Regions from separate parts of the Homo sapiens genome. Here regions 1 and 3 are each linked to region 2. Evidence: fine-mapped expression QTL. A gene starts in region 2. Each other region holds a variant in brackets. All regions are shown on one strand. Distances are between the middles of the regions.

What was found.
Region 1: its variant is fine-mapped to the expression of FAM111A in whole blood (TOPMed, PIP above 0.99).
Region 3: its variant is fine-mapped to the expression of FAM111A in tibial nerve (GTEx, PIP above 0.99). The same link has a PIP of 0.9 or more in sun-exposed skin and tibial artery.

What each region holds. Positions count from the first base shown.
Region 1 is chr11:59,161,803-59,169,986 of GRCh38, reverse strand. No RefSeq gene overlaps it. Among named protein-coding and RNA genes, the nearest start is that of DTX4, 6.2 kb to the left of the region's middle. The variant A/G (reference allele first, on the strand shown) is at 4,814.
Region 2 is chr11:59,137,821-59,146,004 of GRCh38, reverse strand. It overlaps FAM111A (FAM111 trypsin like peptidase A), which reads right to left and starts at 3,149. Exons shown (of 6, transcript NM_001312909.2): 1 at 3,059-3,149; 2 at 2,701-2,922; 3 at 2,310-2,508; 4 at 149-178. FAM111A-DT (FAM111A divergent transcript) reads left to right here and starts at 3,197. Exons shown (of 4, transcript NR_110184.1): 1 at 3,197-3,390; 2 at 5,838-6,048. It also overlaps the pseudogene LOC100422399. RefSeq lists enhancers at 1,454-1,563, 2,932-3,381.
Region 3 is chr11:59,092,124-59,100,307 of GRCh38, reverse strand. GLYATL1B (glycine-N-acyltransferase like 1B) reads right to left here. Exons shown (of 5, transcript NM_001355566.1): 3 at 6,653-6,779; 4 at 6,197-6,374; 5 at 5,522-5,939. The coding sequence ends at 5,522. It overlaps LOC105369315 (a long non-coding RNA gene), which reads left to right. Exons shown (of 3, transcript XR_007062680.1): 1 at 1-2,676; 2 at 2,862-2,989; 3 at 3,398-4,054. Among named protein-coding and RNA genes, the nearest start is that of GLYATL1B, 9.9 kb to the right of the region's middle. RefSeq lists enhancers at 2,379-2,548, 4,671-5,262 and a silencer at 3,162-3,271. The variant AG/G (reference allele first, on the strand shown) is at 4,533.

The DNA of each region.
Region 1 (8,184 bases), 24 kb before region 2:
TTTAAAATTTTATGGAAAATGCATATTATGAAAAAACTAGGCTGGTAGTTCAAATTGTTTTTTTGCACCCAAATAAACTCATACTAACTTGTTATAACATGTCTGAACAGGATCTAGTTTGAGACACTAAGAAGGGTAAGACAATGCCCTTACTGAAGAGGATCAAGGATTAGCAGTCAAAACAATAGCCTACACCATAGATATGTCAACTGGTTCAGCTTACACAATTCTGACAAAGAAATTAAACTTTCCATTCCTTGATAGGTGCCAAAACCATTGCACCCAGGTTGGCCACAGACAAGAGCAGGCCTTTCAATAGAGATTTTAAATGGGTGGGATCAGGATCATGAAACATTTCTTTGAAGAATTGTAACAGGAGATGAAACATTACCAGTATAATCCTGATGACAAGGAACAACCAAAGCAATGGCTATCAAGAGGTAGAAGTGGTCCAGTCAAAGCAAAAGTGCACTGGTCAAAAGCAGAGACCATGGCAACAATTTTTTGGAGATGCTCAAGGCATTTTACTTACTGACTTTCTGGAGGGCCAGAGAACAATAACATCTGCCTAATATGAGAGTATTTTGCAAAAATTAGCAACAGCTTTAGGATAAAATACCTGGGAAAGCTTCACCAGAGTCGTTCTCCACCATGGCAATGTTCATGCTCATTCCTCTCATCAAACAAACGCACTTTTGTGAGCAATTTGATGGAAAATCTTTTAATCTGCTGTACAGTCCTGATTTGGCTCCTCTGACTTCTTTTTGTTTCCTAATCTTAAAAAATTTTTTAAAGAGCATCTGTTTTTCTATAGTAAAGTAAAACTGCATTGATATGGTTAGGGTCCCAGGACACTCAGTTCTTTAGTGATGGACTAAATGATTCATATCATCACCTACAAAATATCTTGAACTTGATGGTGCTTATGTTGAGAAATAAAGTGTACATTTTTTATTTTGTTTTTTAATTTTATTTTTCACAAACTTTTGGAAGTCCCCTCGTGTTTGTGTGTGTATGACTTGACATTAATAGTAAATTATAGATGTAAAATATTTGTATTTTAATAATCCATGATAATTTATAGTTTATCATGACCCAATTAGAAATAATAATTTATAATTATGTATAAATAATTATTATATATGTATATACATTTCTTAGATCTTCTAACACAATCCTAATTTCAAATAATCTGTACCATAAACCCTGAAAATCTCAGAAATTCCATTTTATTTATTTATTTATTTTTTGAGACAAAATCTTGCTCTTGTCCCCTAGGCTGGAGTGCAATGGCATGATCTCGGCTCACTGCAACCTCCTCCTCCCAGGTTCAAGCGATTCTCCTGCCTCAGCCTCCCCAGTAGCTAGGATTACAGGTGCCTGTGACCAGGCCCGGCTAATTTTTGTAGTTTTAGTAGAGATGGGGTTTCACCATGTTGGCCAGGCTGGTCTCGAACTCCGGACTCAGGTGATCCGCCCGCCTTGGCCTCCCAAAGTGCTGGGATTACAGGCATGAGCCACCGTGCCTGGCCGACATTCCATTTTAGTATCCAAACTATATCTCCCAAATTGTCTCCTGTACTCATAAGTGGCATAAAAATCTTTAACCAAATGATATGCCAAATTTTTAATTTGAACATATGATGGCTATAATAAAACCTCACTAATTGAGACTATGAAGCCAGTTTTGAACTGTTCAAAGGTACAATTTGATGATACTTCAAAAAAGGTCGTCATTGTCTAACACAAAGATTCAGTGAAAAAGCCGCTTCTCTTCTTTTTCTGTGGAATGTTCATAGACAAAGCCCTTTTTTTTTTCAATTACCTATTATTATGTAATAAAGCACCCTAAAACTGGTGGCTAAAAACAGCAGCAAGCGTTTATTTTTCAAACACATCTGCACTTTGGGGAGGGCTTCCAAGGACAGCTGGTCTTTGCTACACACAGCATTAGCTCAAGGGAGCTCTCAGGAAAGCAGGTGGCTGGAATCATCTGTAGGTTTGCTCATTCATAAGTCTACTGCTTGATACTGGCTGTTATCTGGGCACTCAACTAGGGCTATCAGCCCAAGTACCTACACATGGCCTGTCCATGTGATTGATGGGCATTCTCACAACACAGAAGTTAGTTTCCAAATAAACGAGAGGCAAGAGAAAAAGCCAGGCAGAAGATGCATTGCATTTTAATTTTTTATTTTAAAATAATTTAAATTCACATGCAGTTATAAGAAACAGACAGAGCCTGTGTATCCTCAACATCCCATAAAACTATAGGAAAACTATAGTGCAATACCATTGCTGATATTGACACAGTTAAGATACAGAATGGTTACAATTCTGCTCCATTATTGATATAATACCATTGTGTCACACATTATACAATACACATTTTGTATACAATATACATTTTCCACACCACAAGGATTTCTCATGTTGCCCTAAAAGGTCACACCCACTAATTCCTCCCCACTACCATCCTGTCCATAACTCCTGGCAATAACTAATATGTTCTCCATATTTATGATTTTGTCATTTCAAGAATATTATGCAAATGGATCATAGAGCATTCAATCTTTTAAGATAGGCTTTTTCCACTCAGCTTAATTCTCTAAAGATTCATCCAAGTTGTGTGTATCAAGAGAAGTTTGTTTCTTTTTATTGCTAAGTAGTGTTCCATAGTATCCATGGACCACCTTACTGTTCATCCATGGAAGTTCATATAAGTTGTTTCTAGTTTGGGCTATTATGAATAAAGCTACTATGAACACTCTCATCCAGGTTTTTGTGTGAAGGTAAAGTATCCATTTCTCTGTGATAAATGCCTAGGAGTACAATGGCAAGGTCATAGGGTAGTTGCATGTTTAGCTTTTTTAACAAACTGCCAGTTTTCTAAAGTGGCTGCACCATTTTGAATTTTCACCAGCAATATACCCATGATCTGGTCACTACATCTTCACCATCATTTTTTGGTCAGTATATTTTATTTTAGCCATTTTGGTAAGTGTGTAGAGTTATTTCATTGTTTTTAACTTGTTTCCTTATTGACTAATAATGTTGAACATCTTTCCATGCGTTTATTTGCCATATATGCTCTTTGATATCTGTTCAGGTCTTTTGCTGGTTTCTGTTTTCTATTATTGAAATTAGAGAGTTCTTTTTATATTCTAAATATTGGGCTGGGCACAGTGGCTCAAGCTTGTAATCCTAGCACTTTGGGAAGCCCAGTCAGGAGTTCGATTGCCTGAGCTCAAGAGCTGGAGATCAGCATGGGCAACATGGGGAAACCCTGTCTCTACAAAAAATACAAAAATTAGCTGGCCGCGGTGGTGCAGGCTTGTGGTTTCACCTACTTGTGAGGCTGAGGTGGGAGGATCGCTTGAGTCTGGGAGGTTGAGGCTGCAGTGAGCTGTGATGGTGATGTTGCACTCCAGCCTGGGCAACAGAGTGAATCCTAGTCTCAAATAAATAAATAAATAAATACTCTTGGTGGATATATAGTTTGAAAATATTTTTTCTCAATCTGTAGCTTATGTTTTCCATGCTCTTCATAGCGTCTTTCACAAAACAAAAGTTTTTTAATTTGATAAAATACAACTTACCAAATTTTTTTTTTCTAAATGGCTTCTGTTTCCCATGTTAATTTTAAGAACTCTTTGGCTAGTCCTAAGATTTGAATATTTTTTTCCTCTGTTTTGTTCTAAAACTTTCATACTTTTACAACTTCCATGTAAATCTACAATCCATTCTGAGTTAAATTTTTGTGTATGGAGTGAGGTTTGAGTGTCTTTTTATGTGTTTATTTGCCTATAGATGTATTGTCCTAGCGCTATTTGTTGAAAAGGCTTTTCTTCCTCCTTTGAATTGCTTTTGAGTCTTTGTAAAAAAATCAGTCTGGCATATTTGTGTAGATCTATTTCTGGTTTCTCTAGTCTGTTCCATTGACCTATATGTCTGTCCCTTCACCACTACTGCACAATGTTGATTAATAAGCTGTATTAATAAGCTATGTAATGTCTTATTGTAAATTGGGTAGATTGATTCATCTCACTTTATTCTTCTTCAAAATTGTTTAGGCTATTCTGGATCCTTTGATTTCCACATAAATACTAGAATAATCTTGTCTATATGTGCAAAAATTCTTGCTGGGATTTTGATAGGAATTGCATTGAAGCTGTATATCAATTTGAGGAGAATTGACATATTTTTACTGTGTTAAGTCTTCCAATCCATAAACACGATATGGATATGCTTCTCTATTTATTTAGATCTTCTTTGTTTTATGTGTTTTCTAGTTTTCAGCATACCTATCCAGTTCATTTTTTGCTCAATGTACACTTAAGTAGTTCATTTTGTTTCAGAGTGATTATATTAATAAATGGCATTCTATTTTTAATTTTGGTTCCACGTACTTATTGCTGGTACATATAAATACAATGGATTTTTGTATGTTTATTTAGTATCTTGTAAGCTTGCTAAGGAGTCCAAATCTGGGTCTAAGAGTTCTTTTATAGATTCCTTAGGAGTTTACATGTCATCTCCAAATAGGGACAATTTTGTTTCTTCATTTCTGATCCTTATGCTTTTCTTTTCTTTTCTTTTCTTTCTTTCTTTTTTTTTTTGAGACGGAGTCTTGCTCTGTCGCCCAGGCTGGAGTGCAGTGACGCAATCTCGGCTCACTGCAAGCTCCGCCTCCCAGGTTCACGCCATTCCCCTGCCTCAGCCTCCCGAGTACCTGGGACTACAGGCGCCCGCCACCACGCCTGGCTAATTTTTTGTATTTTTAGTAGAGACGGGGTTTCACTGGGTTAGCCAG[A/G]ATGGTCTTGATCTCCTGACCTCGTGATCCGCCCGCCTTGGCCTCCCAAAGTGCTGGGATTACAGGCGTGAGCCACCGCGCCCGGCCGATCCTTATGTTTTTCATTTCCTTTTCTTGCCTTACTTAGAATTGTATTACCTGGAATTTCCAGTACTATGTTTAATACAGTTGTGAGAATAGACATTCTTGCCTTGTTTCTGATCTTAGATAACATCTAGTTTTTCACTAAGAACTGTGATAATAGCTGTAGGTGTTCATTTTAGATGTTCTTTATCAAGTTGAGGAAGTTTTCCTCTATCCTTATTTTTCTGAGAGTTTTTTAAATCATGAACAGATATTGAGTTTTATTAAATGCTTTTTTGGTATCAATTGATATGATCATGAGATTTTGTTTCTTCAGACTGCTAATATGGTGGATTGCATTGATTTTCAAATACTTAATGAGATGTGCATCCCTGGAATAAACCCCACTTTGTCATAGTGTATAATTATTATAAAATATTGCTATATTTCATTTGTTAAAGTTTTCAGGGGGCTGGGCATGGTGGTGCATACCTGTAGTCCAACTTCAGAGGTTAAGGCAAAAGGGTACCTTGAGCCCAGGATTTCAAGGTTACAGTGAGCTATGATGAGCCACTGCACTCCAGCCTGGGTGACAGAGGAAGAGCCTGTCTCAAAAAAAAAAAAAAAAAAAAAAATTGGCGGTGGTCTATATTTATAAAGAATCTTGGTGTATAGTTTTCTTTTCTCTTTCTTTTGTTAAATTAAGCTTAGCCTAAAGCTACCTCCTTACATACTTTAAGTTTAACCTAAACGTTTCTCAATACATAGTGAACTATAACTTAACCGAATGTGGAAACAGACTAGCCTACTTTTGTAGCAACTACCTGAGTCTCAGCCAATCACAGAAGCAATACTTCAACCACTCACAGGAGGCCAACTGTTCCAATAGTGTTCAAACAAGGTAAATGCTGCGCTGTAGCCAAGGCAACTGTTTCTTTTCTTTTCTTTTTTCTTCTTTTTTAAACTTTTTATTTCAAAATACTTTCTAAAATTGTATTTTAAAATTGACACATGATTGTACATATTTATGGGGTACATAGTGATGTTTTGATACATATAATATATAGTGATCAGATCAGGGTAACTAGCATATACGTCCACCTCAAACATTTATCATTTCTTTTTGTTGGGAACATTTAATATCCTCCTAGATATTTGAGTTGCTCTCTTATTGTATAGAAACAAGGCTGCTGTTTCTATACCTCACTTTCATTTTCTCTAAGCTACTTTCCTTTCTCTGTCCATAAATTATCTTCAACTAAGTGGCAGTGTTGGAGTGTCTCCCAATCTATTCTAGTTCTGTGGAGTTGCCTGATTCTCGAATTGTTCTTTGCTCTGTAAAATTCTGTTAAATTAAATTTGTCTAAAGTTTGTCTTTTAATACTTTCATTTTGGGAGGGGTGGTATCAGAATAATACTAGCTTCATAAAAATGAATTGGGAAGTTTTCTACCCTCTTCTATTTTCTGAAACAGACTGTATAGAATTGGTGTTAATTCTTCTTTAAAAGTTTGATAGAATTGTCCAGTAAAAGCATCTAGCCCTGGAGATGTCTTTTTCAGAAGATTTTAAATTACAAATTCAATTTCCTTAATAGAGCGCTATTCAAATTACCTATTTCATATCGGATGAGTTGTGGTCATTTGTATTTTTTAAGGGATTGGTCCATTTTATACAAGTTGTCAAATTTATGTGTGGAGTTGTTCATAATGTGTGCTTATTATACTTTTGATATCTTCAAGGGCTGTGGTGATAACATGGCTTCATTCTTGATGTTATTGGCAATTTGGTTTTCTCCCCCCACCTCTCCCTTTCTCCTTCCCTCCTTCCCTGCCAGTCTCGCTAAGCAGTATGTCAATTTCATGTATTTTTTTTTTCAAAAGAACCAACTCATTGTTTATTTTGGCTCTTATCTTTATTATTGTCTTAATTTGGCTACCTATTTTGCTCTTTTTTTAGATTATTATAGTAAAAGCTGATATTATTGGTTTGAGGCTTTTCCTCTTTCCTAATGTAAGCATTTAGTGCTATTGATTTTCCTCTCACCATGGCTTTGGCTGTGTCCCACAAATTTTGAGACGCTTTATTTTCACCTTTATTCAGTTCAATGTCTTTTTAAATTTCTCCTGAGTCTTCTTCTTTAACCTACGCACTATCTGAGGTGGGAGGATCATGAGGTCAGGAGATCGAGACCATCCTGGCTAACAAGGTGAAACCCCGTCTCTACTAAAAATACAAAAAAAAAAATTAGCTGTGCGTGGTGGCGGGAGCCTGTAGTCCCAGCTCCTTGGGAGGCTGAGGCAGGAGAATGGCATGAACCCGGGAGGCAGAGCTTGCAGTGAGGCGAGATCGCACCACTGCACTCCAGCCAGGGTGACAGAGTGAGACTCCGTCTCAAAAAAAAAAAAAAAAAGAAAGAAAGAAAGAAAGAAAGAAAGAAGTGAGAAGTGTGCTGTTTGGCTTTCAAATGTTTGGAGGTTTTTCTGTTATTGTTAGGTTATTGATTCCTAGTTTGATCCCATTGTAGCCCAGAGGACACACTCAATATGATTTCAACTCTTTCAAATTTGTTGAGGTTTGTGTCATGGCCTAGGATATGATCTATCTTTGTATTCACTCTGTGGGTGCTTGAAAAGAATGTGTACTCTACTGTTGGATGAAGTGTTCTATAAATGACCAGTAGACCCTGTTGGTTTATCATGTTGTTCCGTTCTTCCATATCCAGGCTGATTTTCTGTATAGTTGTTCTATAAGTTGTTGAGAGAGGAGGATGTTGAGTTCTCTAACTATAATTGTGGATTTGCCTATTATCCTTTTAGTTATATCAGGATTTGCTTAACATATTTTGTCACTTTGTTGTTTTGTGCTTGCACACCTGTAATTACTGTGTCTTTTAGGTGATCAATCCTTTTATTATTATATAATAGCACTCTCTGTCTCTGGTAATTTTCTCTGATCTGAAGTCTATTTTATTTAATATTTATAGTGGTGGACTTGGACCACACATTATCAGCACCACTTCTGGAGGATCTGGAGACTAAGGTCAGCCATATCTACATGAATAGCCCCCAGTAAAAACCCTGACACTGAAGCTCAGGTGAGCTTCCCTGGCTGATGATACTTCATGTGTATTGTCACACATTGTGGCTGGGAGAAATAGCACTATCTATACAACTCCACTGGGAAGAGACAGCTGGGGCATAAATCTGAAAAGACTGAACAAGCTCTATATGAAGAAAACTACAAAATTCCGATAAATGAAATCAAAGAATGACTAAATACATGGAGAGATAGTCAATGTACATTTAT
Region 2 (8,184 bases):
TATATACAGTGTGTGTAAATATATATATATATAGAGAGAGAGAGAGAGCATATGCAAAGCCTTTAAAACACTGCCTGTATGTAATAGGTCCCCCAGTAAATAATCAATAAAAAGGTCATGTAAATGTTATCAATATCAATACACTCACCACAGGGATACTTTTTAAACAGCAGAGAACCTAGGAAAAAAAATAGAAAATGTACAATTGCGGAACTGGGCTATGTTGCAACATCCCTAAATGCAAGAACTTGTTGCCCAACTATTAAGAAAATCTAGGGATTCACTGTGTCTGTTCATGATGTCTCATCTTACGAAGTTTGAGAGAGGATCCGGGTGCTTTAGGAATGATTAATAGACACAGACAAAAAAAGGAAAATAAAATGGGCAGAAAGAAACATTAATTTTGCATGTACTTGAGCAATCACAGTGGAAAGGGGCAAGAGGTTAAGAAAACACTCCAATATCCTCCGTCTCCCTACATTGTTTTCAGTATCCAGGATAAATCAGATTATATCAAAATATAAAGTGCTCTTAGCTATCCTATACCAACCCCTGTTTTATACTTGACATCAAGGTTCTACTTACCTAAAGAACTTGCTTGACTTCCTACAGCAAAGGGATAAAGCAGTGCAGCCTGGGGCCCATGTCCAGCCCACCTGACAGCTCCCCTTAGGAATTTCTCTGTCTCTCAATCTCTCCTTCCTTCCCTCTCTCCTTCCCCCTCTCTGCCTCTCTCCCTTTCCTCCCCTCCTTCACTCTCCCTCTTCCTCTCTCCCTTTCCTCCCCTCCTTCACTCTCCCTCTCTTCCTGCTTCTCCGCACCCCAACCCCCACTTTCTGCCTTTCCAGGGGCAAGGGCAGGGGTCGAGGCCAACTCTAAGCCTCTTCCAATCCTACCACGCCGCCCCGCTCCCCCCAGCACACAAGGGGACTTGCAGCACTACCAAAATAAAACCTGTGTCCTCCCGGCTCCCCAGATGGGTGGCGCTGTCAGTCCCCGGCTTCCTGACACCCAGCTCCTTCTCCTCCCAGCCGGGACTCGAGCCCGCCGCGGCCGCGCCCGTGACCGCGCCCCGCGGAGCACCCCAGCGCCCTGTGTGCTCACTCACTGCGCGCCTCGCCAGCACTCGGCCTGGAATCCAGCGCTCAACGCAGTTCCCGCTCGTATTTGAGGAAGCAAAGGCTCCAGAGCTCCAGCTGGGCGGGAAACGGAGCAGGTGGGGCTAGGGGTTTGAATCGCCCGCCTTTTGGGAAAAGGTTGTCTGCGAACCAATTGGTTACTTTCTTTCACTTTTAAATCAGCCGTGCCTCTTCCGGCCTAAACCTCAGGTAGCTACAGCGTGCAGTACTTGACGCTGTGTTTATATCAGACAGCACTGCCAGTCTGAAACAAAACTTTCTGAATTTCCTAATCCCCAGAGCCAGCGTGAGAAGTAGACTTGAGCCTGTTCTCTTCCCTTGAACTTTTCTTTTACACGAGTACAACAAAAAACAAGAACAGAGACAAGTCGTAGTGTTGCTAGTGATAAGGCAGATTTTTCACCAAGCCTAAAAAGCTTTTAAAAATCTGGTCCCATAACCAAAGGGGTTCCTAGAAAGATTTCTTTATGCCTAGGGACAAAATAAACTCAGCGCTTGAAAAACTGAGCAAAAAGAAACTGGAGTTCAACCTGATGCAAGATCTACTTTCTCCACCTTTGAGATCAGGGAGAGCCTCAAGAAGGTTGAAGGGACTTCAGGGCACACACTGATTCTGAGTTGAGGGTTGGGAGGTTGATTAGGTCTTGCTGGAGCCTCCAAGAATGTCAAATGTTGGCTCCCAGTAATATCAAAGCAACCTGTTGATAAGACAAAGCTAAGTTTCTTGCTCACTTAGGTAATGGAGAACAATAACTTGACAGAATTTAAGTGGTGTCTCAGAGAGGGAAGAGCAAGTTTGGGCTATATGTATTGAGATTTTGAAGTCCCATTGTAAGTCTAATATTTAATGAGGGGAATTGGTTAGAATTGAGTCAGCTACGGGTAAAAGTTTAGGATTGGTAGATAAAACAAGGCTAGGATTTTGAGGTAAAGGTTCAAAGTCTTAGAATGTAAACTGTTCTTTGATGTTTTCCATTGAAGAGTGGTTGGATCTTTGAAGAAGATACTGGATTAAGCAATAAAGATATTTGCAACTTTCCGGTCCCTGGCAAAAGTTTCTTGAAATAGTAAATGTATGTTGATGAAAATAATGGAATAAGAAGTCAGGTTAATGTAGTTGGCAAGCTATGTGAGTGTAGATGGCTTCAGTTCTCACAATAGTGAACATACCTGATAATGTACTCAACATTTGTCACTTAGAGTATTTTATCCTGGAAAGAAGCGTAGTTGGGAAAACGCACTTGAGATGATGTTTGCTGCACACAGAATTCGGACACAGAGATGTGAATCTCCTTAGGAACCATTTTCATAAAGTTAACATTGGGTCTTAATAGACATCAGTTTTTAAAAATTAGAACAGGCTTGGGCACTGCAAAAGAAAGACACATCCGTTCACTTGGCTGTTCTTTTTAAGTTTCCAGGGAGAGCGTCAGTGCCCCTTTCAACAATAAAAGCCCGCAGGAGTGCAGATTTTATTTACCCTGTCCCCACCAGCATCCTGCTGCGGCCAATGAATCCTGGCAAAACTCCAGGTCAGCCCCAGAACCAAAGAGTAACTCACCTAAGAGGAAGGTCCGTTCCCACCAAGTCTCAGACGCCTGAACTCGTGATTTTTAGGGACTTTCCCTTCCAGTCCCTTGGAATCCAGCACTTTGGTTGGAGAACAGAACTCACTTGGGGAATGGCGCGTCTGGCCAATGGAATGAAAGATACTGGAGTTTGTCTTTTCTCTTCAGGCAGCAACTCACCTACTTCGGAAGCCGATTGGCTGCGCTGGGGACACCTGTTGGCGTGCAAAAAAGAGTGGTTGGAAAGGCAAGGCCGAGGGGGCGCGCCTACCCTACCCACCCACAGCGCTCCTCCTTGACGCCGCGAGCAGGACCCTGTCTCACTGACCCCGTGCCCACGGCGGTCCTTGCCTGCTTCTATTCTCCCGGTTTCCCCAGTCCCGAGTATTGGAAAGCGAGAGCGAAAGCGAAAGCATCCTAGTCGCCGGTAGGCTGGCCTGGGCCGGGCTGGAGAGGGAGCAGGAAATAAAAACTCGGGTGTGGGAGGAGCTGGGACGCTGGCGGCAGAGCCACTGTGGCAGCTTGAGTCTCGCGCGCGCAGGAAGCGGAGGTGGAAGTTGGGGCGCAGGAATGTGGCTGTCCCCGCCTGTAAATCATGGTTGGGGAGGAGTCGCGGAGGCACCAGGCTGGGGTCTGCAGCGCGCCATCTGCTGCAGCACACAGGAGGCGCTGAGGCTAGTTGGGTAAGTGGGGAGATTTCAGGCACTTCCGAGGGGGCGGCATCCCCAGCAGGTGGGATAGGCCCGGTGACTAGGACAAAATCACGAAGAAGCCGCGGATGCAGGAAGAGTAAACTCCCTTGTCATAAATCGATTCTCCAAACGTTCATCAATATGTGGAGACGTTTATGATAGTGATGAAGAAGATGATATGGGCTCTAGGAATATGCATCTCAAAGCTGATGATCGAAGAAGATTGGAGAGGGTTTTCAAGGCAGCCTGCTGTTTAAGGACCTGCATTCTGAGTAGATGTGTATTGGAAAAGGCGATTACAGTCACAAAGGGGACAACTTTTATGCAATTGACAGAGGACTATATGATGTATATAAACAGATAGGGTTGAAAGGTGTGTTGGTAACTACAAAACACATGGGAATTTGAAGGAAGGAACTGGCCTTAAATGCATGTACAATACACCAAGAGAAGCTAAAATTACTGCTTCATCTTCTGTGGGTTCTTTGGGGTTTGGATAGAGTAACCTTAAAACATATTTGAATGCTGACTTTTTCTATGAGACTCACTTTTGGAATCTGTGCATTCCTACATTCACAAAGGGTAATCACAGCTAGTACCCAGCATCCAAACAATAGCAGCCAATAATTCTAATCTGGAGAAAATTTTCTTTTCTCTCTCTTTCTCTCTCTCTCTCTCTTTCTTTCTTTCTCTTTCTTTCTTTCTTTCTCTTTCTTTTTTTCTTTTTCTTTCCTTCTTTCTTTCTCTTTTTTCTTTTCTTCTTCATTCCTTCCTTCCTTTCTTCCTTTCTTTTTTCTCTTTATTTCTTCTCTTTCTTTCTTTCTTCTTTCTTTTTTCTTTTATCTTTCTTTCTTTCTCACTTTTCTCCTTCCCTCCCTCCCTCCTTTCTTCCTTCTTTCTCTTTTGCCTGTTTTACATTTTAATGTGTAAGCAAATAGTGATTAAAGGACAATAGGCTTAACATTTTCTAAAACATGGGTGTTCAGAATTGAATATACTGATAAAATTTGTTTCCAAAAGGAAGGATTATATACTAGGTGGGAGTGTAAATTAGTTCAACCATTGTGGAAAACAGTGTGGCAATTCCTCAAAGACTTAAAAACAGAACTACCATTCAACCCAGCAATCCCATGACTGGGTATGTACCCAAAGGAATATAAATCATTCTTTCATAAAGACACACGAACACGTATGTTCCTTGCAGCGCTGTTCACAATAGCAAAGAATCAACCTAAATGCCTATCAGTGGTAGGCTGGATAAAGAAAACTCAGTATACCATTGAATACTACACAGCCATAAAAAATAATGAGATCATGTCCTGTACAGGGACATGGATGGAGCTAGAGGCCATTATTCTTGGCAAACTAATGCAGGAACAGAAATCAAATACTGCATATTATCACTTATACGTGGGAGCTAAATGATGAGAACACATGGACACGCAGAGGGGAACAACAGACGCTGGGGCCTATCGGAGGGTGGTGGATGGAAGAAGGGAGAGGATCGGGAAAAACAACTAATGGGTACTAGGCTTAATACCTTGGTGGTGAAATAATCTGTACATCAAACCCCCATGACATGAGTTTATCTATATAGCAGACCTGCACATGTACCACTAAACTTAAATAAAGCTTTTAAAAAAGTTTTCAATCTACGAAGTTGAGATTTACTAGAAAGGTTATTCAAATGACTTTGACATATTGAAATATTAGTGCACAAGGAGATAATAAAAAGTTATTATTATAGAAGATATAAAACTTGTACCACCTAATATCTGTGCAACTAAATCTACTATGTACCAAGATATTTATCAATATTCTTTCTGAAATTTTTATGTCGTTTTGTATAATTTTAATCATATTTCTTTTAAAAACATTTATGGCATGATAAGTTATGTGTTGGCTTATTGCGGAAAGGGCCTAAAATAACAATTCTTAAACTTTATATATATTTGCAATGAAATATATTTTGGCTTTAGACAATAGGAACATAACCTTTTTTTGGATGAAAGATTACTGTCACATTTTTTCTTCATTATCTGACATCTTTGTCATTTTCTTAACTTATATTACTAATTAAAGTTCCCTACCTTTTCAAAAGAAAAAAAGTCTAATATTGACATTTATTTATCTGTAGCAAACTTTAGCTATTGTTTTTTCTACTAATTTCAGGCAAAAATGAAGTATTAATTTCAGTTACAAAATATAGCTTAGTAAGATCTAAACCAAATAAAATTCACATTCTAAAGACTACAAACAAGTTTTAAAAAGATATTTTGGCCATTAAACTTATTTATTAAATTTAACTTTTGTCTTCTAAGAACCAGAGTTCTTACAATTACTATGAAGCTCCTATTCTATAATCATAGCCTGGGTTCCTTGTCAATGCTTCATTAAACAGGCTATTTTTTTCTTTTTTCTTTTTTCTTTTTTTTTAGAGACAGAGTCTCACTGTGTCACCCAGGCTGGAGTGAAGTGGCATGATCTTGGCTTACTGAAACCTCCATCTCCCAGGTTCAAGCGATTCTCATGCCTCAGCCACTTGAGTAGCTGGGACTACAGGATTTCGCCATGTTCCCCAGGCTGGTCTCAAACTCCTGAACTCAGGCAGCCCGCCTACCTTGGCCTCCCAAAGTGCTAGGATTACAGGTATGAACCACCGCGCCCGGCCAGTTTCTTAATTCTTAGACTAAATCTACGGGGGACACACTTTTGCCAACATTAGCTGCAAAGGGTTTTTTCCTCCACACTTAAGTCACGGTCAGTAAGTAGTTTTTTTTTTTTTCCTGTGTTTTTGTTTCCTTGTTTGTTTTTATTTGGGAAAATGCCTCTTTTGATAGTAATGAATTATTTTTTACACGCAAGGTCAAAAACAGCATGGAGTGAATTTTCTTCCACACGTATACACCCTTTTTTATTCCTGCCTCTGGCTGTAAATAGTTGCACAGTTAAAAGCAGGATGGACTTAACGGAGTATCATTTATATTTATAATTGCTGTATTTGTAATTCTGCTACAGAAATGAATTCTGTTATTATAATCAAAGGTTACACTGTTATCTGAATTCTTGAAAAATATGTAAAAATACTGCTCTTGTGGCTTTTCATAGGTTTATAGTCTATAAACACTAATTTTAATCAATAATTCATATCATTTATGATTAATTTTATGAGAAACAGATAACAATAATAGACATAGGCATAATTATTTTGTGACAGCTGGTGTGTTTGGAGTATTTACTATCACCCTTAAATATGATACCCTGGCTGGAAAACATTAATTTGATAACATACCTTTAAGAAATTATATAAAATATGCAAAAGCATAACCTTATGCACATTTTTAAAACAAGGCCTTCTTGTAGGAAAAAGATTACACCATGCATGAAGATGTTTTGTTTTCTATCATTATTTGAATTTATTTTAAAGGCCATTACTGCTCTGTGTGTGTATATATATATATATACATAAATATACATATATATACACACACGTATGAAACCAAAAATTCCAGGTTCATCATATTATACACAGATTTTCTTTTTTGTTGCCCTTATTCTTAATCATTGAAAGCACTGAAAATCAATACCTGTTTGATAAGATGTGCAATCAAGTTAAAAATATCACAGTTATTATATATAAAACTTTCTTAAGATTACTTTTGTAGTAACCTTTAAAAGGGGTGGTGGTGGTGTGGGATCCCTTGGCAAAGTCCAACTTGGCTGCTTAACTGCTTTCATTGGCCTGGCTAACACTTATGTCTGCCCACGGAAGCAGCAGGGAGTGTGTAGAGGGAAATGACCTCTGCTGCTGTACTGCTTTGAGTTCCTCTCTGAGCTTGGCATTTACATGTGTCTGTTTCATTTAATACTCTCAATAACCCTGTGGGGAAGGTGAGATTATCTTCGCCATTTCACAAAAAGCTTTAGCAAATAATTGTGCAGAAACATCCTTATGAGGATTTGTATTCCCATCTGAAACTAGAAGCCAAACTTATTCTATTGAATGATGGCTGCCTCTCAGATCTAACTGCAAAAAGGCACAGTGGCTTACTTCTTCCTAGTATAATGCTTTTTCATTAATCCAATAATCTATTCAAGGTATAAATTTCGGGTGGCAATTTACAAGATCCGGTGCCACATTCTATGAAGGGTAAAATGTTGACCCCTGCCCTCAAATAGGGAAGACAGAAGAGGTACACAAATAATATCATTTCCACATGGTTTCATTCATTTAAGAGATGTGTTAATTCCTACTTTGTGCCAGGTATTGTACTGGACATTGGGGAACAGAGGTGAATGAATATGATTCTCACATTCATGGACCCAGAGCAGTTTAATGCAATATTGTATCTAAGCCTAGTGCTTTTCCAGGTCACGTCTCATAGCCTATCCAATATATTAAAATGCACACACATTCTATATTAAATACACGTTTGCTGTTTAATCTAGTTTGAAGTACTTGGAGAATTGGAAGAACCAGTGGCCGAGTGTGGAAAATTGTTCTCAGATCTTCCCCCTTCCCTGTACACACACTGGTTGCCAGGTGCCTTTGCAGTTGCTCTCCACCCCATCAATGTTGGGCTTTGGGCAGTAGAATATAGACAGAATTAACACTGTGCTGAGCTCGACCCTGAAAGCCACTGCGTCTTTATGTTTGCCTCTGTCCTGGTTCTGTCGTTGCATGTAAAGAACATGCCCCCGCTAATACTGTCTCATAGAGGGCATGAGCCTAAATGAGGTAGCCTATGGGATGGTCGTGGAGATGTACCTGGCACGAACGCTCCG
Region 3 (8,184 bases), 46 kb after region 2:
AGTAAAAAAAAATTGACAAATTTTATGTAGAGAATTAACTCTAAATGGACAATGATAGGCTCTCTGGGAATGTGTAAGAAAAGTTTTAAAGAAGGATTCTTTAAATGGATGCGACACACTGCAAGGGAAATTCTGTGACACCTGGAACTAAAACACATGGAACTAAAACATCGGTCTCAGGGGGTTGAACGGTAGAGGAATAAAAGCATTTTGTATCACTTAGCACACTCGTCTGGATCAGAGGAGGGAGCAAAACAGGGAAATGAATCTATTGGAAGATATCAACTTATTGAGGTAAAGGAGGAAATGGTGAATAGCTGTTACTTTATTTTATATAATAGTAAAAAAATTTGTGTTCAATTATGAGCACTAGAAACAAATACCAGTGATTGAATAAAAAGTTAATAAGGGAATATGATGTATAAGTGAGTTAATAAGAGAACTTGAGGGATAAGTGAATTAATAAGAGTCCACAGTGGAGGCAATTTCCCCTTTTGAAAAACATTATCTTTTGAATATATGCAGGATATACTTTGCAAAAGAAAAAAAGTGTATATTGGGGAAAGAATTTTCACTCATTCTCGAGACACTCAATACTTTTCCCTAGATAATCTATGGCTATAAAAGCATAATAATGCCTTTTTAATATATTTTCCCAGCAACTAAGAAGTTCAGTGTTTATAATTGTAATAAGAAGCGTGCTGATCTGGCCTGAAATATAGTTTTACTTTAGATATATGTCTCATAAATAGTATTTGAGAAGTCAGGGAATATGCTTAGAAAGGGATTACCAAGGCCCTATAACACATGAGTTTGAGGGCACAGGGAGATTAAGATTTAGAACAAAGTTAGGTGAAATCTAGGGCCAAAGGATAGCAGGGTGTGTGTGTGTGAGTGTGTGTGTGTGTGTGTGTGTGTGTTGGGTGGGGCAGGTGGGAACCTTTGGAGAATGCCTGTAGGCTGCTAGTGAGGTGCTATGATCTCTAGACCTTGGTAGGTCCTTGCAAAGAGACATGGTTCTGAAAGGTTGGCACCCTTATAGGTTCTTAAAATATTTTCGTTATCCATAGGGGTGAACCTGGAGATCATTACCAAAGTTTAAAAATTTCACCACTGGGCACACAGGTTACCCTTCTCGTGGTGGCATGGCAAAGCTTGATTTGCAAGAGTTTCTTTTGGATTGTCCCCAATGATTCCCTTTAAAAATAGGAGCTCCTTCAGGGTAAGGAAGGAAGGAGAAAATATCCCTTCTAACCTATTTTCTCTTTTTCATTCCAAGGACTCTGGAAAGGCACAGCAGGTTTGGTTTTGAAATCTGTAGAATTTTAGTGCTCTCCATTCTCCCAAGTAGATGACTTTAGTGAAGGTAAAAGGAAAGACTGTTTGCTGTGTCAAGGGAAGATTCATATGCAAATCCCAAGACTCAGATGTTATTTCAGAAGAGTTGGTGTCCATAGTAAAGTAGAACTGGCCCGGGTTCATCTGCCTACAAGGGCAATTGTCTGAGGCAAATATGAGGAAACTGGCAGAACAGGAGGGGTGGAATCTTCCTGGGAGAAAGAGTAAAGAGAGTTCTAGGTGGAGAGGGGATCAATATGTTGAGCAAACACCTGGCTGTCTTCTTAGTTCCTATATGAAATCATGGAAAAGACTTTAGAACAAAGAATAAATATGTCATAGCAGGAAAACAAAGAGCAGTCTTTTGGCCAGAAATAGAAACTGTTAAAAAGAAAAACAAACCAACAACAAAAAAAAAAACACCTTTAAGTTTGAAAATGACAGAAGTTAAGAAGTGGAAAGTTGCCTGGGATATGCTTTTATTGCAGCCTCTCTAGTAAACCCGTCCCCACTTCATCTTTGTGTCTTTGCTTATCCTAAGCAGCATGGTGGCAGCCATGGCATTCTTCAGGCTGAAGTGGTCATTTTTGGCACTTGGGCTTGAGATGGCAGTGAAGCGGCATCGTTTGTCTGGGGAAATGCCAGAGGTTTGCTGTCTCACAGTATGGAAATTGTAGATGTGGACACCAAAGGAGTGGGTTTAAGAGCAAAAGTTTAATAGGCAAAAGAACAAAGAGAGAGTTTCCTCATGCATTGGAAGGGTGCCTGAGCAGGTTTCCGGGTTTGGGGCGAGTTGTGGTTGGTTTTATAGAGGAGCTTGAGGAGGCAGTGTCTGATTTACATAGGGCTCAGAGGGTTGGTTGGAGCAGGTGTGCTATTTATGTGATGCACGAAGAGCCTGGCCATCCCACATGAATCTTTAGTATGCAAACGGGGCCTCTACCTGGCCTGTGCCGTGTCGCCTGCACAAGTGAAGACAAAGAAAAGGAAATAGGCGGCCAGGCGTGGTAGCTCATGACTGTAATCCTAGCACATTTGGAGGCCAAGGACGGTGGATCACGAGAGGTCAGGAGTTCAAGACCAGCCTGGCGAAGATGGTGAAACCCTGCCTCTACTAAAAAAACACGAAAAAAAAAATTAGCCATGCGTGATGGTGGGCACCTGTAATCTCAGCTACTCAGGAGGCTGAGGGAGAGAATTGCTTGAACCCAGGAGGGGGAGGTTGTAGTGAGCTGAGAATGCACCACTGCACTCCAGACTGAGTGACAGAGCAGGATTCCATCTGAAAAAAAAAAATAGGAAGAGGAAACCTCTATGTTGAGTACGCCTGACTTCCAGGTATCCCTTTTCTATTTGCATAGGTGCCGGCATTTACCTATGCAAGCTTTTAGCATGCTTGCGGCTTGATTTTTTAGGCTGATTTTCGCTAGAAAAGCGATTATATGGGGGCTGCTTTTTATTAAAAGAAAAACCTTACTGAGGACTCTCTTACCTACACTAACTGCTTAATAATTTCTTTTTAGCTCCTGTATCAGCAGTGCTTGTGCCTGATAGGTGATGATCATGAGGGGGACCAGGAGCCTCTAGACTTAAGAGACAAGTTGCCAGCATTCTCCAGATGGAGTGTTTCCCTCCCCAGCACCACCTGCTGGTCAGTTTGACAAGCAGATGAAGGGAAGTTCTCAAATACACAATAAGCAGATAACCCCAACATCACCAGAAATAGCAAGTTGTGATGGCAGTTTGTCAAATTGTCTTTATTTTTTGTCAGCATCATCTGTTGCTTTCTGAGGGAAGTTTTTTGAGTTCTCCCACTGAGACTGTGGATTTGCATTTTTCTTTTGTATGTCTGTCAGCTTTTGCCATGTATAGTTTGTAGTTGTGTTGTGTTGTGAGGCAGATTCATGACCTATGTTGTGGGAGAATTTCTGTATTTAGCAGATGTTCAACTTACGTTCTATTTTGCCAAGTGTTGATGGTATTACTTTGCTTTTCAGTTTCACGTTCATTTAGTATATCTTCTTCCTTTCCGTGAACCCTTGTGTGTTGTTTATTTCAGATATGCTTCCTTATGAACTGACGGTGACTCCCAAATTCATATGTTGAAGACCCAACTCCCAACGGACTTGGAGGTGGGCCTTTGAGAAGTAATTGGGTTTAGATTAAGTCATAAGGGTGGAGCCCCCTTGATGGTATTAAGTCCTTCTAAGAAAAGGAAGAGAGTCTGAGCTCTCCTCTGTCTCCACCATGTGAGGGCACAGAGATGTATGCTTCTTGGATTTTGTTTTTAACTCAGTATGAAAAACATATATTTTAATAAGAAAATTACCCCATTCATTGTTAGTGTGTTTATTGATAATGTTGGACTTACTTGTGCCATATTTAAGAAATCCTCTTTCATCCTTCCCATGCTTTCTTGTTGTTTTTTTAATGCAAGTGCATGATAAGGTTTAGGGATCACTTTTTTAACAGGTCCACGAAGGGCTAGATAAGGGAAGCTGGTTTGCGTTCAGGGAAGCGGCAGAGGAGGGAAGCTGGCAGCTGGGCTGTGCTAAGATGACCTTAGCCCCAGACCCTGGATGAACATCCTCTTCTGGATACAGGACCTGCCCGAGGCATCATTTTGAAATAGTCAAATTTTATTTGCTTTGTGTTCTTTCATCACATATATTAGCTTTTGCCTCTTGAGTGCCAAAATATAGCTGTTTTTATATTACCCCAAGTTCCTGAGTTTATTTTTTAGGTAAGAATTTTCCACCCTTTGAAATCCCAAATGACATGTTTACTCTCTTTCTCAGACCATGCTTTCATTTCAGTCAATGTAACAAATCAGCCAGGTCTCAGGAGTTTAGAAATCTGATTGGATTGATTTATACTAAGCGGTAACAGATCTACCACAGCCTTCTAAGATGAATTGGAGTTTCTTAAAAACTCCATGACCTACACTATTCTTTAGGTGCTGGAATTGCACACTTTCAAATCACATCAAGTATAAACATTCAATTTTGTGGGGGGTTATTTTCTATGGAGAGATGAGGTGTTGATTAATACTGGTAGGCTTTACTCCAAAAGACAATTCTATTAAGATTTCTTTTGTTTTTTAAAATCTAGACTATCAGAAGGAGTAAAAATGCCAATTTTTTTTTTCTTTTTGCTGTGGCTACAATGTTCACAGTAATCCAAGCTCCAATGAC[AG/G]GGGGGGAGAGCGGAGCCAAATGAGGCCCCGTTTTTTTCATGAAGTGTATTTTTCTTTTTTTTTTTGAGATCAGGGGTTCAGAAATTGTAATATAAGTGTTCAATTATAAAGTTATTATGATAGTGCATGGCACGTGTCCTTTCCATCATCTGGATTTTTCCACTTTTACTGTATGGCTCACTCTTACTCACTCTCCAGTCTTCACCTTAGTGGTCACTTCCCCCTGAAATGCCCTTGACCCCTTAAGATAGCAGTGCTGCAAACATCGTAAGCTGAATTTATAGCCAGACTCACAGGCAACACCTTATCTTGTGCCATGCTTCACTAATGATGAGGAAGTGAGAAAGAGTAGGGGAAAGGAGGCACAACAAATGTCATTTCCATAACAGAGGCCTCAAGGCCAGCCCACTTGATTCTCTGGAGATCCTTTTCTGCATAACAATGATGAAAGGTAGCCTAAGAAAGCCATTTGTCTGAGGCTTCACCTTTGATACCTTGCTAGACACTAAACTAAGAGACTGATTCCATTCTTTAGTATAGCCATTGCCTCATAAATCCATACATAACAGGGGTATTTCTTTCCAATAAAGTATCCATATAGATTAGGTATATTCTATTGACAATTTTATTAAAGTTCTTCATTTATCTTCCAGATAGTAGATTCTATCAACCAAGTTTCATAAAGAGTTCTGATTCCCAGAGGTAAGAACTGAGCCTGGCTTTCTAGTTACATGTTTATTGGTAACTCTGTCCTTCCCTACAACACTTAAGCATATTTAAAGACTATACCCTCCCCTGCCTCCAGCTTGGATTGTAAGCTCCTCAAGAGCATGGCTGTGTCCTTTAACATCAAGTCTCCATGTGAGAAAGAGTTCCTGCCATATCACAAATGCCCAATCAACATTTGTAAGTGAAGAAAGCTATTCTGTGGTGTCTGCTTTAATATTAAGAGATGGCTTGCCCAAGATTGCTAAGCAGCTTCATTGTCTACAATGGAACAAGATTCTGTGGGTAGCAGTTCCATTGGTGCCACTGACAGGAGGCCTCAAGGAAACCTAGTGCACTAGTCTTTCTGATGACGCCTTGATTTTCTTCCAGCACAGAGCCGTAAAATGGAATATTCTTCTGACACAGATACTTCATGCATCGCATGATCAGCCGTGTCCCATTGCCTCTCCTTCGGTATTTTTCCACACTGTAGCCCATTCCTATTTCACAAGAAGGGTCCATGGTTACCCATGAGACCGGGACCCCCTCTGGGCCCAGCATACAGGCTGCTGGCAGGGCTCCTAGGCAGCGCTTGATGTAACGCAGGCTCCTCTTATTCATCCCTAGCTTCCAGTTGTCATTTACCAGCCCAGAATAAGACACATTCAGCTGGGCATACTTAAAGTTCGGAGTCTCGCTGTAGAAAACAAAAAGAAAGACAACAACTTTCATCCCCACTCCTGTAATTTCTAGGTGCCCTTCCATTCTAGAGATCCCAGGCCCTCTTCTTGTTAAAAGACCCACCATTGCAAAGTGGCGTATTTTGACCACTGACAACCTTTATTCATCCCAAGGAATGAATTCATCCTCTCTTCATTCCAAAACTGATTTATGTGAATTACAAAAATGTACAAGGAATAGCAATTATAAATGATCAGCACATGTTTTTTGTACCTCTCCAATTCGTCATCTGGGTGGCCTGTCTCAGCCCAGCTTCCAAGCTTGCTTTTATTGGTGGCATAGAGCTTCAGGATATCTTCCGTAACAAAGAGGAGTGCTCTCGAATGCTCTACCTTCACTGAATTTGAAAATGCAGCTGCTCTTATCCCCTCACCTAAACTTTCTTGAAAACCTGAGAGAAAGCCAAGAAAGCAATATTGTCAGACATGCAGTTCTCTACTTACACTGCTCACACCTGATTAATGCCTCAGTGCTTAGTAGTTCTCAAAGTTGAGTTTACACCACAATCAGCTATAGTCCTTGGCACACCACAGATTGCTCCACCTCTCCCAGCTCTGAGAATTTCAAGGAATTTACATTTCTAATGAGCTCTCAGGTGATGCTAATGCTGTTAGTTGAAGACACAATTTGAGAAGCACAGCTGCTTGCCCATTTCTTCAGACTTGTTACCTTGGATTTGGAGTTTCTGTTTCCAGTTTATGATCTCAGAATTTTTCAAAACTTCTTGTGATTTTTGAGGGTCTTTGGAGAATACACGATATACATTAGTGTATGAATCCATGTCATCAGTCATCTCCTGTGTAGGATGGTGAAAGGTCAGATCATTCCCTTGAACTTTTTCTTCTCCTCTCACTGATTGCAATTATTAGAAAAATGAAAATTCAAAAGAAAGTTTTAGCACTAGCCCACGATGGCTGCAGTTGGGCACGTGGATAATATAAGTGAGACCTATAAGCTACTGCTGACCTCTTACCTGTGTAACTGGAGTTTGTTAAATATTGAACACTGACAGTTACTGGTTATAAACCTGCTTCTCAGATACATAACAAAGACAGGATGAAATCAGTCACCCTCCACCAGGCCTTAAGATGCCTCACTTTTCTCCCTACCCACTCAACTGCACACTTACCTTATTTTATATATAGCATCACAGAGCGCCCAGCAGAAGCAAAGGAATGCAACAATTGCTTCTCTCCCTGCTTCTCTCACCTCCTGGACCACACATATCCCCCTGTTATATATACTGTGCCCCACATAACCCCCTGTGGGACATATTCTGGGTTGTACTGAGTCCGTGTTGATAGGGTTAAGTTCTTAAGCTCGGCACAAGATGAATTTAACCATGATTTCTCTAAGTTATAGTGCCTACTGTTTCACCAGACACCTACAATCTATATTGTTCTAGAATCTGCAGTGTCCAGGGTTTGAGCAAGATACTTTAGTGAATATAAACATTAAGGAGACATTGCCTTTTCCCAAGGCTACAGGATATCAGCCTCTTTGAAGAGTGACATGGCCTTTACAGCCAGAAGCCCACAAAATAGAATGAAGTAACTGAATTTTCCGTAGCACTCTGCGCAATTTATGTGGTGTTAGACTCATGGGTTTTAAAGAAAGATACTTGTGATCTCATTCTCACAAGCCACAAACTTCATGGGACGATGAGTATCTGTTTATCAGGGGAAATATAAACAATAAGTGTGAGTTTTAGCAGTGCATGTATTAATATTATGTTGAAAATTGTATTGTTAAGGAGTAAAAGAGAAAATAGTGTAACTAATTTTAAAGAAACCTTCAAGAATTTGAGGATGCTTTTATAAATGCAAGTTCCTGAATATGGCCAAAACACAACACCTCAGTGAATTTAAAAGAGTAGATGTTTTAAAAGACCGGATTTTAAAAGAATGACTGAACATAGCCAAGTAAATATTCAAAGAATTATAAAAAGAATATCAAAGTAGACTAGAAAATAACAAATGGAACAATTTGTAAAAATGAAAGCCATAAATAATGAAATGTAGAACAAGACACAGTGCAAATGATATATAAAGCCAAAAGTTCATTTTTAAATGGCAAAAAGAAAGAGCAGAAGAGAGAGAGAGATAAACTTCTGGTAAGGCATTTAAAGGAAATAGAAGAGAAAGAGAAAAAAGAAAAAAAAAAGGCATAGAGTATGAGCCATGAGAATGGAAACAGAAAAG